2 separate regions of the Homo sapiens genome follow, and region 2 is linked to region 1. The links come from fine-mapping of genetic effects on gene expression. A gene starts in region 1. The other region holds a variant in brackets. All regions are shown on one strand. Distances are from middle to middle.

Region 1 (8,344 bases):
TCCAGTGATTCTCCTGCCTCAGCCTCCAAAATATGATGTTGTTTTATTCCCTAGATTTAGTTTACCATTGGTGGTTGGACCCGATTGCTCTTATATTTGAATATTTATGTCCTAATACAATAAAACCTCTCTTCTTGAGTAATTTCCATTAATCAACTTTTGAGTGAGCATATAGAAATAGATATGAACAAATAGAATTCTACTATTTTCTGGTTATTCTCTATGTCATAAAATAGATATCACAAAACACTTTATAAAAATTAACTTTATTAAAATGAGCTATGTGGAGAAATTATAGCCCTTGTGGACAGTTGGTGAGAATGAAAAATGATGCCACCATTACAGAAAACAGTATAGCAGTTTGTCAAAAAATTAAAAGTAGAATTACTGTATGATCTAGCAATTCCACTTTTGGGTATATACCCTAAATAACTGAAAGCAGGAATTCAGACAGATATTTATACACCGATATTCATGGCAGCATTATTCAACATAGCCAAAAGGTGAAAGCAACTCAAGTACCTATCAACTGATGAATAGATAAACCAAATGTGGTATATACATACAATAGAATATTATTCAGTCTTAAAAAGGGAAGAAATTCTGACACATGCTACAACATGGATGAACCTTAAAGACATTATGCTAAGTGAAATAACCCACAAAGCAAAAACACTCTATGATTTCATTCATATGAGGTATCTAGAGTATTCAAAATCATAGATGGAAAATAGAATAGTGGTTACCAGAGGCTGGTGGGGACAGAATATGGAATATGGGTAGTTATTGTTTAATGGGTACAGAGTTTTAGTTTCAGGAGATGAAAAAATTCTGGAGATTGACGCTCAATGTGAATGCACTTAATGCCACTGGCTGTACACTTAAAAATGGTTAAACTAGCAAATTTTATGTATATTTTACTACAAGTATAAAAAAAATCCAAAATACATTCTCCTTAAAATACAAACCACTTAAAAACTTAAAAGTGGTTTGTATTAGAAAAATAAATTTCTCAGAATTGCAAAAAAGGAGAGATAGTTTAATATGTCTTGTTCTATATGAATAATTAATATATTTTTTATATTCTCAAGGTAACTGATAATAGCTTAGTTACAGAAGTTACCAGTATAAAATTATACACCAGCACACCAATATAAATACTAGTTAAAAACCAAATCTACAATTATAAAATTAATTAAATCAATTAACCTCTCAATTTAAAAATTAACTATTTCAATTTCTGGAATTCTGTTTTCTCTTCTATGTCCTCATAATTCACCAAACTACACTGACATTGGCTTTGAGATACACATTTGTCTCCAGTAATCTGATCTGTCATTTATTTGGACCTTTAGCAATGAATTAATTTTCAGTGAGAAAATTATTGTCTTAAGCTTTAAATATACTTTATCAGTATTTTGCTTCCATGTATGTTTTTTATGATAATTATCCCTATTAGGAGAGAAAACTGAAGTCAGAACTTGGCAAACCAGATTTATTTCTCTGTTAACATTTTATTATGGCAAAAGTACATGGAGTTACTGTAGGTTTTCATAAGAAACATGATAAATATATTTTAAGCTATTGTATTTTCTACATGTATAATGCATTAGTAGAAGAAAACAATGGATAAAGAAGGGTAGCAAGGTTGTTAAATTATTATAATGTAAATGAATCACTCAACAATCAAAAGAATCAACTAATAATGTAAATGCATGCTACTTCCTCAGCACTATGATGACTTCTAAAGGTGTTGTGGTAAAATGTATGGTATAGTTTTTGTACCCTCAAGAATAAAATATAATTAGACTATTATTATGCAAGACAAAAGTACTAAACAAGAACTCTTTGGAAATCATTACATAATGTGCTATTTTGGAATCTAAGCTGTTAAGTGCTTTAGGGTTTAAGAGAACGGTAGATAATATTGATAGTTGGGAGAATTATGAAAAAAAATTCATGTAAAAGAAAATTAGCTGGACCTAATAAATATCTAGGGTTTGATTTGCAAAGGAAGTAAAAAGAATGCCTTCATTTAGTAGGAAAAACATGAGTACAGAAATATGGTAAGAAAATGGAAAATCTGGTTACAATTTTAGAATAAAAATTATTATAGATTTCCTTATGCTGATGCGGGAGTGGAAAATTTAAAATTAGAATTGTTAACCTCAGATCCAAATTTGAAGTGGTGGGGTTTGAGAGTTTCAGTGAGCCTCGTTTAACTAGTGTGTGTGTGTGTGTGTGTGTGTGTGTGTGTGTGTGATATTGGAGAAAGAACTTCTGGCTTTTCTACGGATCTAATTTACATTGAATTGTACAAGCATTGATGGGATGTTTGACAAACCTTGAAGATGTTGTGATTACAATTTTTGGTGAATTGGAAGGTCAATTCTGGGGGCTTGTTCAATGAAAACATTAAGGCAACAGAAGTAAATATAGCTCTTCATCAAGGAAATTTTATTTGAGGGAGTTTACATTGTTCTCTACAGTAACAACAAAAATAGGGCAACTTACAGAGAAGTTAGTAAGCTAAGTAAACATTTTGTCTTTAGCAAAGCTTATCATTTGCATATTTCTTATTTCTTGATTAAGAAGACTCTTGCAACCAACCTTTTAAAGCCTTCCTTTACCTCCTTGTTCCTAAGTGTATATATAAGGGGATTCAGCATGGGTGCAATGATTCCATAGAAGAGAGAAACCATCTTTCCTTGGTCCTTGGAGCTGGGCGAAGGTGGTTGCAGGTACACAGAGACGGCTGTACTATAAAAAAGAGACACCACAATTAGATGGGAACCACATGTCCCAAATGCTTTTTGTCGACCTTCAGCAGACTGTATCCTCAATACTGCTCGGACAATAAAAGCATATGATATAAGGATGAGTGTCAGGGGTATTAGATGGAAGAGCTCACTGACAAGGAATAGTTCAGCCTCATTTGCTGTTGTCTCAACACAAGATAACTTGAGCAGTGCAGGGACTTCACAGAGAAAGTGATCTATCACATAGGGGTCACAGAGTGGCAGCTGGAGAGTCAGGGTAGACAACCACACTGAGTTACTAAAACCAGTAACCCAGGATGCAGCTGCCAACTGGAGGCAGAGTCTCTGGTGCATGATAACTGAGTAATGGAGAGGCCGACAAATAGCTACAAACCTATCAAAGGACATGACGGCCAGGAGAAGATATTCAGTAGCCCCCAAGGCCAGAAATATGAAAAGCTGGGCTACACAGCCACGATAACTGATTACTTTCCTGATGCTGCATAAATTTACTAGCATTTGTGGGACTGTACATGTGGTGTAACAAAGATCCAGGAGTGATAGATTGGTAAGAAAAAAATACATGGGGGTATGAAGTTTGGTGTCCAGGCGTGACACTAGAATAATGGTCAGATTGCCAAAGATGGTCACAGTGTAAGAAATCAAGAAGACCACAAGGAGTGGAAACTCCAGCCAAGGTCGATCTGAGAAACCCAGCAGAATAAACTCCTGTATGATGCTGTCATTTACCCAATTCATGATTAATGTTTCAACTCTTGGTTTCCTGAAACAGAAAAATTCAGGAAGTCAATTAACACATATTTGTTAACTATTTCAGTTACTTATAGTCATTTTACTACCTGTTTGAAGATATTTACAGAATTGATATTGCTTGTTTTATTACATGAAAAATATACAGTTGAAAATGCTCATAATTACCAAAGTATTTCTAAAATTTAATCTTTCTATATCTGTATCATCACTGCAAAAGTGAAAGCTAAAATGTAAAAAGTAGATTCCTGATTTTAAACAACTTTCACAAAATTTCTTCTTTGATTTTTTGTCATTTGGTTAATTTTTGTAATACTGTCCACATAGATAGCTATTATTAGATTCGGTCATAATCTCTAACACATTTTTTTCACTCTAATTTCTCAATGTTAAGGAAACTGCCTTGTCATCTGAAACAAACAATTTGTTAGTTTCTTAAATTTTTTTTTATTTCAATAGGTTTTTGGGGAACAGGAGGTGTTTGGTTACATGAATAAGTTCTCTAGTGGTGATTTCTGAGATTTTGGTGCACCCACCACCTGAGCAGTGAACACTGTACCCAATGTGTAGTCTTTTATCCTTCAGCTCCCTCCTTCCCTTTCCCCCCAGTCCCCAAAGTCCATTGTGTCATTCCTCATAGCTTAGTTCCCACTTATGAATGGGAACATACGATGTGAAACAATTAAAATTATTTAGACCGCCTCAAAAACTATGCATATAGGCTGTAGCAAGCTATTAGACACATCTCAGGGAAACATCTTTTGCCTTCTAAGACCTTATCAAATTAGAATAAAAAGATATTAGTAGCATGGAATTTGGAGGCAGACAAGTCTGGGTCCATGTCCCTACTACATAAGTCATTAGTTACATCCTCCTGGGAATGTTTCTTACTCTTTGTGAGCTTCAAGCTCCTCACCTATAAAATGAGTATAATAATACCTTCCTGGGATAGTGGTACAAAGTGTAGACAAAAGGAACTGTAGTCATCTTCTGATGCTCAGAGAAAAATTATGTATGATTTTCAGAACTTTAAATGTCCTGGGGTTGCCAATAAAAAATGACTCTGTGAGGTAATATTTATCTTGTTCTCTCCACAACTCCAATACCATCAACTTTAACAACAGAGATAATAATAACTATCTGATGTGAAGTATAAATGTGATCTTTAATGTAAATTACCTGGTATAATGGCACACAGCAATGTGAATGAAAGTATCATATGACACAGGAACTCTGAGACATTCGGGGCAGAGGCTGTTCAGAGCCCTAAATTTGCTAAGTACTAATATAAGTCAATGCTACCAGTTAAAAATTTCCAAATCATCTATCTTGCTACCACCACCCTCTATTGTTTTATTATAATTTTGTTAGTGTAAAAATGTCAATTTAAGGATAGGATCATAAATTTTAAACTATTATTCAATATGTATTTCAATTTTGCTCACTTATTCTACAGTTCTCAGTATAAAATGGCAGGGAAAGCTTTTATAGCCTCTCAAATGAGTCCCTGCATATTATTGACAGCTGCATATTATTGACATGCTATGCAGCTGTCAATAAAATTAGGAATGTGGTATAGATATAAATTCAGATATAGATATACATGTACAAAAACATTCAAATCCTTAAGGAAAAAAACAAGTTTCTGAACATGTATTTAGCATGCTTCCATGTGTTTACATAAGGGAATATAATCATATTGGTCAGTATTCATATATGTATAAAATTACCTGGAAGTATACAGAAGTGTTAAAAGCTGTTACTTCTGGGGAATGGAAATGGAAAGAGGGAGAAAAATCAGATTTTGATATTTAACTTTATCCTTGCTTTTTCTAATTTTTAACAAATATAATGCTTTTTATTATTAATAAAGATTATTATGTATTATATAATAACTTTAAGTGAGGACATATTCATACTGTATGTTTTACTATAAAGACAAGCATTGCTTTAGACTTTATAACTGAAACAATCTTATATGAATTTAGACTTTTATCTCAACAAATTTTTAAAACAGGATCTACATTAATCTACATGGACATTTTCTAAAGACTGGAATGCAAGGGCATTGGGCATTCGGCATCTTATTGACAAAAAAAAATCAAAAAGAGTTGCCACTCATTATAGGAATTCTGAAAAGCAGAACAAATGGAATCCATAAAAAGAGATTTCACAAGTTCACAATTTCCTTGAATTAACAAGTGTTGGAAAATACCCTCAGTCTATATAATTAGGGTCACTGCATATCTCAGTTTGCACAGGACTGCGAGTTTACTCCTGCTGTTCTGACACAATTACTAATAGAACCCTTCAGTCTTCAAAAGAGTTCATGTTTGGGTGATAAGTTATAAGGTCTCTCTAGCTGTAATATTGGAGACTAAAATAATTTTCAAATTATTGTTCAAGAGATACCTCATCACTGAGGACACTGCATATGCTTTCTCCTTACTTGGGCCAGTGGCTTTCCCTGACCAGCCCTGTATCTGGCATTTCTCTGCTAGAATACAGCCAAAAACAAACTCTCCAAGAAGCCCTGACTAATGAAAATTCTAGAAGGGAGGAATTCAATTAACTTCTACTCTTTCTCACTGAGGTTCAGCAATTACAAAAGTATTAAATGCACTTCTGTTATAGGTAATGTCCATGATCCACAGCAGTGAGGGAAATTTTGCCCCAAATTTCTCCTGCATGAGAACAAAAGTACTGGGGAGACTGTAGTACAACTCATTCTTATATTCTGCTTTGCTAACTTTTGGGGCAAAATTTCCCCATCTTTCAAATATCCAGTAACCTCTTTACATATCCACTCTAAAAGAGAGAACTTTTGTTAAAAAGTTGAAAAATTGTCTGGGTGTGGTGGCTCACGCCTGTAATCCCAGCATTTTGGAAGGCTGAAGTGGGTGGATCACCTGAGGTCAGGAGTTCAAGACCAGCCTGGCCAACATGGTGAAACCCCTTCACTACTAAAAATACAAAAATTAGCTGGGCATGGTAGCACACACCTATAATCCCAGCTACTCAGGAGGCTGAGGCATGAGAATCACTTGAACCTGAGAGATGGAGGTTGCAGTGAGCTGAGATAGTGCCACTGCACTCCAGCCTGGGCAACAGAGTGAGACTCCATCTCAAAAAAAAAAAAAAAAGTTGAAATATTATCTTGCACACAGAAGTTTCAAGTAATTTGAATTGTTATTCTTATCACTATCATTGGATTGGAAGGACTTGTTAACAATGGAAACAAGTAGGAATCTTGTATCTCTGAAATCCTCGCAGATAGCATAACCAATTATTTACCTGATTACACCTGTGCTGATGGTGGTGCCCAGTCATGGCTGAGATCGCAAAAGGCTACACAATCTATTTCTCTGGTCCTGAATAGAATTCTGTTTACAGCATCTTCAGAGGATATCATTCTCATTTTGAGTTAACGAGCTTTCCTTTGGTCAACATAGGAACATATTTTCATAATGTGAGACAAAAGGGATCAGATTGCATAGCAACTATCTTACAACTGCAGGTAAGAAAAAGTGAGTATTGGGCCAGGCACAGTGGCTCCTGCCTGTAATCCCAGCGGGAAGCTGGGGCTGATTGCTTGAGTCTGGGAATTCCCAGCATTTTTGGGAAGCTGAGGCAGATCGCTTGAGTCCAGTCCAGCCTGGGCAACATGGCAAAACCCTGTCTCTACCAAAAATACAAAATTAGCTGAGTGTGGTGGCATGCGCCTGTAGTTTCAGCTACTCAGGAGGCTGATGTGGGAGGATTGTTTGAGCCCAGGAGGTTGAGGCTGCAGTGAGACATGATCGCACCACTGCACTCCAGCCTGGGCAACAGAGACCCTGTCTCAAAACAAAACATAACAAACAAAGCAAAAACAAAATTGAGTACTGTAAAAAGCAACAGTTGAAAAGGGTTATTTGGACCTTTAGAACTTTTATCTATACATAACTCAGGATATTTCAATTTTATTGTCTGAATAAATACAATCACCACCCGTTTGCTTGTATATTAGTTGGGATTGCATCCATCAGCTACATACTGAAGTTATTCAGTATATGGCTGACAGAGGATTCTGAATGACGAGGTTCAACAAAGTCCTGAAAACTTTATTTTAAGCTGTTTACTATGCAGTGAGCATTGAGATAAGAAATATGACAACAGCTGTAGTTTAGATGCTGCTACTAAGTCACTTCACTACTGGGCAAGTTACTCAATGGCTTTGGGAAGCAGTTTAATCTATGGTAACACCAGAGTTTTCTGTTTTCCATTCGACATAAAAATTGTTTGCTTCTAAGTTTTCTATAATTATCATACCTCTGAGAATGTATAAAAAGCTTTAAATATACTACAGTGAACCCCCATGTTCCTGCTGGAGTATAAGGATAAATACTAGGAGTAATTTTTCACACAACAGTGCAATTTGGCTTAGAATAGATGAAAAGTTTGCCAATATTTTTTGTCTGTTTCACAAAAGGTTAATTATTCAGGTAGAAATCTGAATTTAGAGGTTCAGAGAGATTATTTTCATAGGCTAGATTATTTTCATAGGCAGACAGAAGGTTCAAATCTAAGACTGCTCTGCTCTCAAGTTTTAATTTCCAGTAGAGATAACAAAACATTGCAAATAGCAGTATAAAACAAATAAATGGAATTAAGAAACTGGAGCCTTAGTCAAATTTTTCTGAGTGAGATAATCATAAACGTCCATAAGTGCTCAAAACACCCAAATTTTAGCAGGTTTTATATAATAAATTTCTTAAATGTGTTCTACATACCTCTATTTTAAGCATTAGTGATAGGATGATTTGTGTGTCCAA
Region 2 (8,344 bases), 140 kb after region 1:
TTTGGGAAGTCGAGGCAGGCAGATCACTTGAGGTCAGGAGTTTGAAACCAGGCTGGTCAACATGGTGAAACCCTGTCTCTACTAAAAATACAAAAAAAATTAGCTGGGTATGGTGGCAGGCACCTGTAATCTCAGCTACTCGGGAAGCTGAGGCAAGAGAATTGCTTGAACCCAGGAGGCGGAGGTTGCAGTGAGCCAAGATCATACCACTGCACTCCAGCCTGGGCAACACAGCAAGACTTTGTCTCAAAAATTAATTAATTAATTAATTAAAGCTTTTTTTTTGTTTTTATATCCATTTTTTTTATTTCCTTCATAAAGATGTACATTATATTACATTGACACATTATATTCACCTTATTTTGTAGGGTCACCATTGACCTAGGCACTATAGGGGGAAAAAAAATGAAACCCAGTCTGCACTCCACATGACTTGTAAAAACAAGATATAGTCATCAACACCTCCAATATTGGCTTACACAATAGGCTATAACAGTGGGTTAGAGTTCTCCAAGTGCATGGGGAAAGTAAAATCAATTAGTGTATGGGTAAAACAACTCAATAAAGAACTTTTAAATATTGTTTTGCTAAGTATTCTGTGACCAAAATGTGAATTTTATCTCTTCTAAAATGACTGTACATACATATAAAGATTGTGTCGACCCCAAAATTCTGTTTTGTTCTATTAAAAATTAAAAATAGGGGCAGGGCACAGTGGCTCACACCTGTAATTCCAACATTTTGGAAGGCCAAGGCAGGAGGATCACTTGAGCACAGAAGTTTGAGAACAGCCTAGGCAACATGGTGAAACACTGTCTCCACCAAAAAAGATACAAAGATTAGCCCAGGGTGGTGGCCTGTGCCTGTAGTCCCAGCAACCCAGGAGGCTGAGGTGGGAGGATTGTTTGAGCTTGGGGAAGCCAAGGTGCAGTGAGCCATGATTGTGCCACTGCACTCCAGCCTGGGCAACAGAGTGAGACCTTGTCTCAAAAATAATAATCATAAACAATTTTGCCAAGATTTCTGGATAGTATTTTCCTAATTTTTTTTTTTCTTTTAGATGTAGTCTTGCTCTGTCACCAGGCTGGAGTGCGGTGGTGTGATCTCAGCGCACTGCAACCTCTGCCTCCTGGATTCAAGCAATTCTCCTGCCTCAGCCTCCCAAGAAGCTGGGATTACAGGCGCATACCACCACACCCTGGTAATCTTTGTATTTTTGTAGAGATGAGGTTTCACCATGTTAGCCAGGATAGTCTCAAACTTCTCACCTCAAGTAATCTGCCTGCCTTGGCCTCCCAAATTTCTGGGATTACAGGCATGAGCCACCGCACTCAGCCTAATTTTTTAAAAAAATCTTTTGAGCTTTAATTTGTTTCTAACATGATACTCCTGTATCAAGAATAGATGCTTCATCTAATGAGATTGTATTGTTCGGGCTCAGAAACCGATTCCCCAAAATATGGAGCTTTGACATACTGAACTGAAGAAGAGTACTCAAGGTCTTTCGGACCTTCCCCCTATTCCTCTCTCTCATTTCTCTATCTGAAAGCAGAGAATGAAGTTGTTCTCTGAAATTCCCTTATCTCTCTAAAGTATAGACCTGCCAAAGAAGAAAACAATTACCTCTGGTCTCTTCTCTGAGTTTTCATTAACTGAAAACTCATATCGCAAGAAGACTGAAGTCTGTCAACACACGGAGACAAACCTTTGCCACAAATCATTGTCTGGTCTGTGGGCCAAACAGACTTTGTCCTAGGCTGTTATGTTATTCAAGCCTATTGAATTCCCCTAAAAATCACTTAATACCCCTGTAAAATCATCCACACTTCCCCAACTCCCTTTTCCCTGAGAAGAAGGGTATGTAATCATCTGTATTCTATTGCATGGGGCGTGGGGGGGAGGGGGAGGGAGTAATCACTGATTCTCCCCCATGCACATTAATAAATTTGTATGCCTTTTCTCCTATTAATCTGCCTTTTGTGAGTTGACTTTTCACCAAACCTTCAGAGGACAAAGGGGAAGTTTTCCTTTGGATTCTACAGTTTCAATAGACAACCAAAAGTTAAAGTTAAAGTTGGGAATTATTTAAATATGCTTCACTCTTTGAATGTATTATTCTTACTTAATCTATTAACATGTATATGTCTTTGCTAACGTTTTGATAATTTATTGAATGGAATCCTAAATTGGAAATTCCTAGCATAAATCACACATATGTTAGAAAGTATTTTTCAGGTTGGGTTTCTTTAAAGAAGTGTGAGGATTCAAAGGCTCTGGAAAAGCAATCTCAGTGCAGATGCCTTTTGAATCCTTCCAGGTATCTGAGTTTTCTCACAATTTTAAAAATTGATTTAAACATAACTAGAATATTTCTGGCAATTTAACTGTAACACATCTACAGAACACTCACTAGGTATTCACAGTGATATTAAGAGCAATTATTTTTTCCAGTTCATTTTCTTTGATTTACCTGATTTTTTTTGAGACAGAGTCTTGCTCTGTTGCCCAGGTTAGTGCAGTGGCGCGATCACGACTCGGTTCACTGCAACCTCTGCCTCCCGGGTTCAAGCGATTCTCCTGCCTCAGCCTCCCGAGAAGCTGGTGTTACAGGCACGTGCCACTGCACCCGTTTAATTTTTTGTATTTTTAGTACAGACGGGGTTTCACCACGTTGGCCAGGCTAGTCTCAAACTCCTGATCTCAAGTGATCCGCCCGCCTCTGACTCCCAGAGTGCTGGGATTACAGGCGTGAGCCACCACGCCTGGACTAACCCTCCACATATTTATTTATGACTTTACCTATAACTTCTGCTTCCCTAAAATGTACAAAACAGTTGCATTCTGACTGCCTCAGAACCACTTTCTCATGGTCTCGGGGGATTGTGTCTTCCCTAAGCCACGGTCACTCATAGTTGCTAATAATCCTCTTTAAAATATTTTGGGCCGGGCGCAGTGGCTCACACCTGTGATCCCAACACTGGGAGGCCGAGGCAAGTGGACCACCTAAGGTCAGGAGTTCGATACCAGTCTGGCCAACGTGGTGAAACCCCGTATCTACTAAAAATACAAAAAGTAGCAGGGCCTGGTGCCACATGCCTGTGGTCCCACCTACTCGAGAGGCTGAGGCAGAAGAATCGCTTGAACCCGGAAGGTGGAGATTGCAGTGAACCGAGATCGTGCCATTGCACTCCAGGGTGGGCAACAAAGTGAGACTACACCTCAAAAACAACAACAAAAAACAAAAAAAAACCCACATATACAAGTACATTTATATGTACGAAGCGAGTCCCAAAGGGTACCTAATGGGAGACAAACTTAACAGTGAACTGGCTCTTTCTTGAGAAACGTGGACGGCTCTGAAAAGAGCCTTTGGGGTGTGGGTCACGGCGGAACTGTTACTGCAGCGAGAGGCTCACTTGGAGCTGGTATACTTGGTGACGGCCTTGGTGCCCTCGGACACGGCGTGCTTGGCCAATTCCCCGGGTAGCAGTAGGCGCACGGCCGTCTGGATCTCCCTCGAAGTGATGGTCGAGCGCTTGTTGTAATGCGCCAGGCGTGACGCTTCTCCGGCGATACGCTCAAAGATGTCGTTGACGAAGGAGTTCATGATTCCCATAGCCTTGGAAGAGATGCCGGTGTCGGGGTGGACCTGCTTCAGCACCTTGTACACATACACAGAGTAGCTCTCCTTGCGGCTGCGTTTGCGCTTCTTTCCATCCTTCTTCTGAGCCTTGTTAATGGCCTTCTTGGAGCCTTTTTTAGGGACTGGAGCAGATTTGACTGGTTCAGGCATGGTGGAAAACAAAATAAAAGACAACCTTAGGGCTGTTTCGTCCTCTTTATTTAAATGTTATTATGCAAATTAGGAGTAGAATAGGTCAGTGCTGATTGGTGATTATCCGTGGATGACGTCAGATGCCAGTTTTGCCCAATCAAAATAGGTATCCTGCATACTCGAGTCCTATTGGTCTAAATAAAAATAAAACGTAAGCCAATCGCACAGCTTCCTTTTCGCGCCCAGTAGAGGCTATAAAATGTACGTTTTTCCAATTTCATTTCAGTCTTTCTTGACCGTAAAGGTAATAGA[C/T]CTTTTGCCATGTCTGGGCGTGGTAAGCAGGGAGGCAAAGCTCGCGCCAAGGCCAAGACCCGCTCTTCTCGGGCCGGGCTTCAGTTTCCCGTAGGCCGAGTGCATCGCCTGCTCCGCAAAGGCAACTATGCGGAGCGGGTCGGTGCTGGAGCGCCGGTGTACCTGGCGGCGGTGCTGGAGTACCTGACCGCCGAGATCCTGGAGCTGGCTGGCAACGCGGCCCGCGACAACAAGAAGACTCGCATCATCCCGCGTCACCTCCAGCTGGCCATCCGCAACGATGAGGAGCTCAACAAGCTTCTGGGCAAAGTCACCATCGCACAGGGTGGCGTCCTGCCCAACATCCAGGCCGTGCTGCTGCCAAAGAAAACTGAGAGCCACCACAAGACTAAGTAAAGACCGAGTTGAAAAGCGCATAAAAACAAAGGCTCTTTTCAGAGCCACTTCAACAATCATAAAAAGATGACACGAGTCCGTTTTCAGCTGCTTCACCACTACACAGTACACTCATGATGTTTCGGTGTTAATCTTTAACCTGTTTACATTGCCTGAATTTCAAGGTTTTTTTTTTTTTTTTTTTTCTTAATGTAGATACTAACAAGGTACGTTTGCTAACACGTGTTTTCAGGGGTTTTACCTTGGTGGCCAGGCTGGTCTCTGACTCGACCTCAGGTAATCCACCCGCCTAGGCCTCCCAAAGTGCTGGGATTACAGGCGTGAGCCACTGCGCCAGGCCAGTTTGTGGTATCTTGAAGGCATTTTACTGGGACACAACTTTGACAAAAGTCAAAGCCTCTTACTGGGAGTTACATAGTAGGTACTGGTGGGTTTTATTTATGATTCTGGGAAACTCACTGGGCTGTAAGGAATATAGTATAGTATTCGGTTTTTAATATGCTTACTAGAAAAAGTATATGGATTGCTACTAGACAGTGTGTTTCTCTACAGTTTCACAGTCTCTAGATTGAAAACTGAGGGTAGAGTCCTCAGCCCTATTTCCTGGCCTCTAGGAAAGGAGCTGCTCAATGGGTATATTTAAACAAAACCAGACAGTTTTATGTTTACCAATGTATACATTGGTCATGTTTTGTTTTCTATTTTTAATTTTTGCACTTACAAGAGTTTGGAATAAAAAAAAATTGGCCTTAGAAGTTTTCTAATTAAGGGTCTTTCAAACATATACATGTTCGGCAGTGACCCAATAATTACATGTATTTATGTTAGTGTACTGCTGAAATCACATGTTAATAATAGTTAACTTCATTGTATGTGTTCTGATATTTTTCTGTTTAATTCTGTATGTAATTAACCTTTTTGTACCTGGGTGTTATGTTACAAATGTATCCTGTAAACACTTACAATTAGTAAGTGAGTTAAATACTTAGTAACTGCTGGATAAGTAGATGGCCAAGCATAGTAGTCCAAGCTGGTGATGTTCGATGGTAAGGTTGGTTCTGAATACTTATTGATTCCAAGAGCACTAGTGGGTGAATACCTACACTCAGAAAAAAATATCTCTTCTGAGAAAAGCCAAAGGCTATTTTGAGAATAGTGAGGTCAGTTCCTCATGTTATCTTTTTTTTTTTTTTTTTTTTTTTTTGAGACAGGGTCTCGCTTTGTCACCCAGGCTGGAGGACAGTGGTACGATCTCGGCTCATTGCAACCTCCAACTTCTGGACACAAGCGATTCTCCCAACGCAGCCTCCTGAGTATCTGGGACCACAGGCACACGCCACCACGTTTGGCTAATTTTATTTTTTGGAGAGATGGGGTTTCGCCACATTGCCCAGGCTGGTTTCCAACTCCTGGACTCAAGCGATCCACCTGCCTCGGCCTCCCAAAGTGCTTGGATTACAGGCATGAGCCACCGCGCCCGGCCTGTTGTCCATATTTCTGTATGGGCATATCAAGGTCCTTTTATTTTGGGCCTTGAAAAGGATTGTTATGCCACTTATGAGTTTTGCCATCTCAGGAAATTCAGACACAAGAATTATGTCCTTTTTTTTAAATTTATTTATTTTTTGTTTGTTTTGTGTTTTTGAGATGGAATCTCCCTCTGTTGCCCAGGCTGAACTGCAGTGGCGTGATCTCGGCTCACAGCAACCTCCACCTCCCGAGTTCAAGCGATTCTCCTGCCTCAGCCACCAGAGTAGCTGGGACTACAGGCACATGCCACCACACCTGGCTAAATTTTTTGTATTTTTAGTAAAGACGGGGTTTTACCATGTTGGTCAGGCTGGTCATGAACTCCTGACAAATGAGCTGAGTTGGATGGTTACCAGACTATTGTAATTCAGTACATGGAGTGTTTTGAAAAGACATAGAGTATTCATTTCCACATAACTAGAACTACTCACTGTCCCTTAAATAAATAATTCCTCATGTAATTATAACTGGAAATTTAACTGGGAGTATCTTGGCTGCATATCTCCAGGAGAGGATGCCCTACCCAGCCAGCAAGAGTATTGATTAGTACATACCAGGCAGTCTCTGTGTGAGCCCTTCCTGATTTATTACTAGCTCTTAGTTTCCCAGCACAGAAAGAAGGAATGCACTATTTACACACTCAACAATATCCATCGGTTTAGCAGTTGGGCCCCTAAGTGTCCTAGAGGCACTGCTTCCCTCCAAAATAGTGTATCTTCCTTTCCAGAAGAAAGCTAATTTCTGAGAGGGGAAAAACTCTATTTTGTTTTGCTTACGGTGTTGATTCCAATTAAAAGTATTAAAGCATTATTTTAATTTGTAAAATATTAATCATAAATTATTTATCTTTCTAAATTCCATATATGTGGAAATAATGAAATCATGAACCCACACACAAGAAAATGAGGATGAGCAGATTGTGAATGTTGCAGTAGTGATCTTGATATCAAATTTCCAAAAAAGTGTATTAAGAATGTAACCAATTCTAATAACTGAAGATACATAAATAGCCAACTGAAACAAGATAGAGAATTAAAACTGCTTTTTAAAACTCAGTGTAAAAATACTATGATCTTTCCACTTACATCCTTCACAGGTTAAGCTAAGGAGAGACAGAGATGATAACACACATACACAAGCCAATTTGCCAGGGAAAATCTTGAATACTTATAAGAATGCTAGAGAGCTCACAGAAGAAGTTATAGAAATCTAGCATTCTGAATACAAGAATGGATGAGGTAAGGGCTTTCCTGGCCCACAAGAAGCTGATTTGAGCATATCTACCAAGCTGATGTATTTCTTTCATTTGAGATTTTCCATGTGGGTATGTCTCCTTACTATTATATACCCATGCATTCATTCATTTATCCAACAAATACTGATCAAAAGCTCCTACGTTACTGGAGATATGCGAGTAAACAAAAGTTCCTCCTCTCATGAGCCTGTATTTTAGAACACACAAGCAATACATCAGCAAACTCTGGTACAGCATATAGTGACAAATTCTAGGGTGAAAAAAATAGGTGGGGATTATACAGATTTTATTTAGTCATACAAAGCCTCATTGAGAAAGTAACATTTAAGCAAAGACTCAAGTATTTTATCCTGTGCTCAAAAAAACTACCACAGGCTTACCTACAAGGCAGTCTTATTTTGAATACTCCTGACAGTTCAGAGTTTTAGCCACTGTCAGCAGAAGTCAGAGAAAACACTTTCTCTCCCACACGTATTTTTACATGGGGCTTCAAAGGGAATGTTCTCTGGCGGGCTTTCTCCAGAAGACTTTTAAACCTCAAACCATCTGTCATTAACTACATTTAAGTGGTTTAAGCAGGCCCAAAATCCGGCTTGAAAAAATTCAAAGAAAACTTAACACTGCTTAGGAACGGGGGGCGGGGAGAGAACGTTTCACTTTAGCCAGCATGAGCTACATTAACCTGAATTTTTCCAACTTCAGTACAACCTTAGTTTTATTTCTGGCGTGTTGGCAAGAAATATACACACACCACAGTACAGGTTAGCAGAAAATTAGAAGCACCATCCGGTCAAAACCGGGCTGCGGAGATGGGAGAGCAATACACGAAGGAACTTTTGGCTACACTCAATGCTTACGGAAAAATGCCGGACATTATTAGATGTTAAGACTCCCAAAATTAGCATTCAAAAAGGGATAGGCTGAGTCTTACGAAACAGATTGTATAACGTCTGGAAATGGGCCCTATCTACTACAGGCAAAACAAGTACCAGGAAGAATTCCTGAGAGAAACAGATCTTTTCAGCGCGCATGTGGGTGGCTCTGAAAAGAGCCTTTGGGTATGTAATCAGTGAGTC

Evidence for each region.
Region 2: its variant is fine-mapped to the expression of OR2B6 in whole blood (TOPMed, PIP above 0.99).

What each region holds. Positions count from the first base shown.
Region 1 is chr6:27,952,415-27,960,758 of GRCh38, reverse strand. OR2B6 (olfactory receptor family 2 subfamily B member 6) reads right to left here and starts at 3,518. Exons shown (of 1, transcript NM_012367.1): 1 at 2,577-3,518. The coding sequence starts at 3,518. The coding sequence ends at 2,577.
Region 2 is chr6:27,810,493-27,818,836 of GRCh38, reverse strand. It overlaps H2AC14 (H2A clustered histone 14), which reads left to right and starts at 4,060. Exons shown (of 1, transcript NM_021066.3): 1 at 4,060-4,535. The coding sequence starts at 4,097. The coding sequence ends at 4,483. H2BC14 (H2B clustered histone 14) reads right to left here and starts at 3,815. Exons shown (of 1, transcript NM_003521.3): 1 at 3,348-3,815. The coding sequence starts at 3,793. The coding sequence ends at 3,413. It overlaps H3C10 (H3 clustered histone 10), which reads right to left. Exons shown (of 1, transcript NM_003536.3): 1 at 8,301-8,344. RefSeq lists enhancers at 3,157-3,206, 3,297-3,356, 3,467-3,586, 4,277-4,426, 7,777-8,344. The variant C/T (reference allele first, on the strand shown) is at 4,088.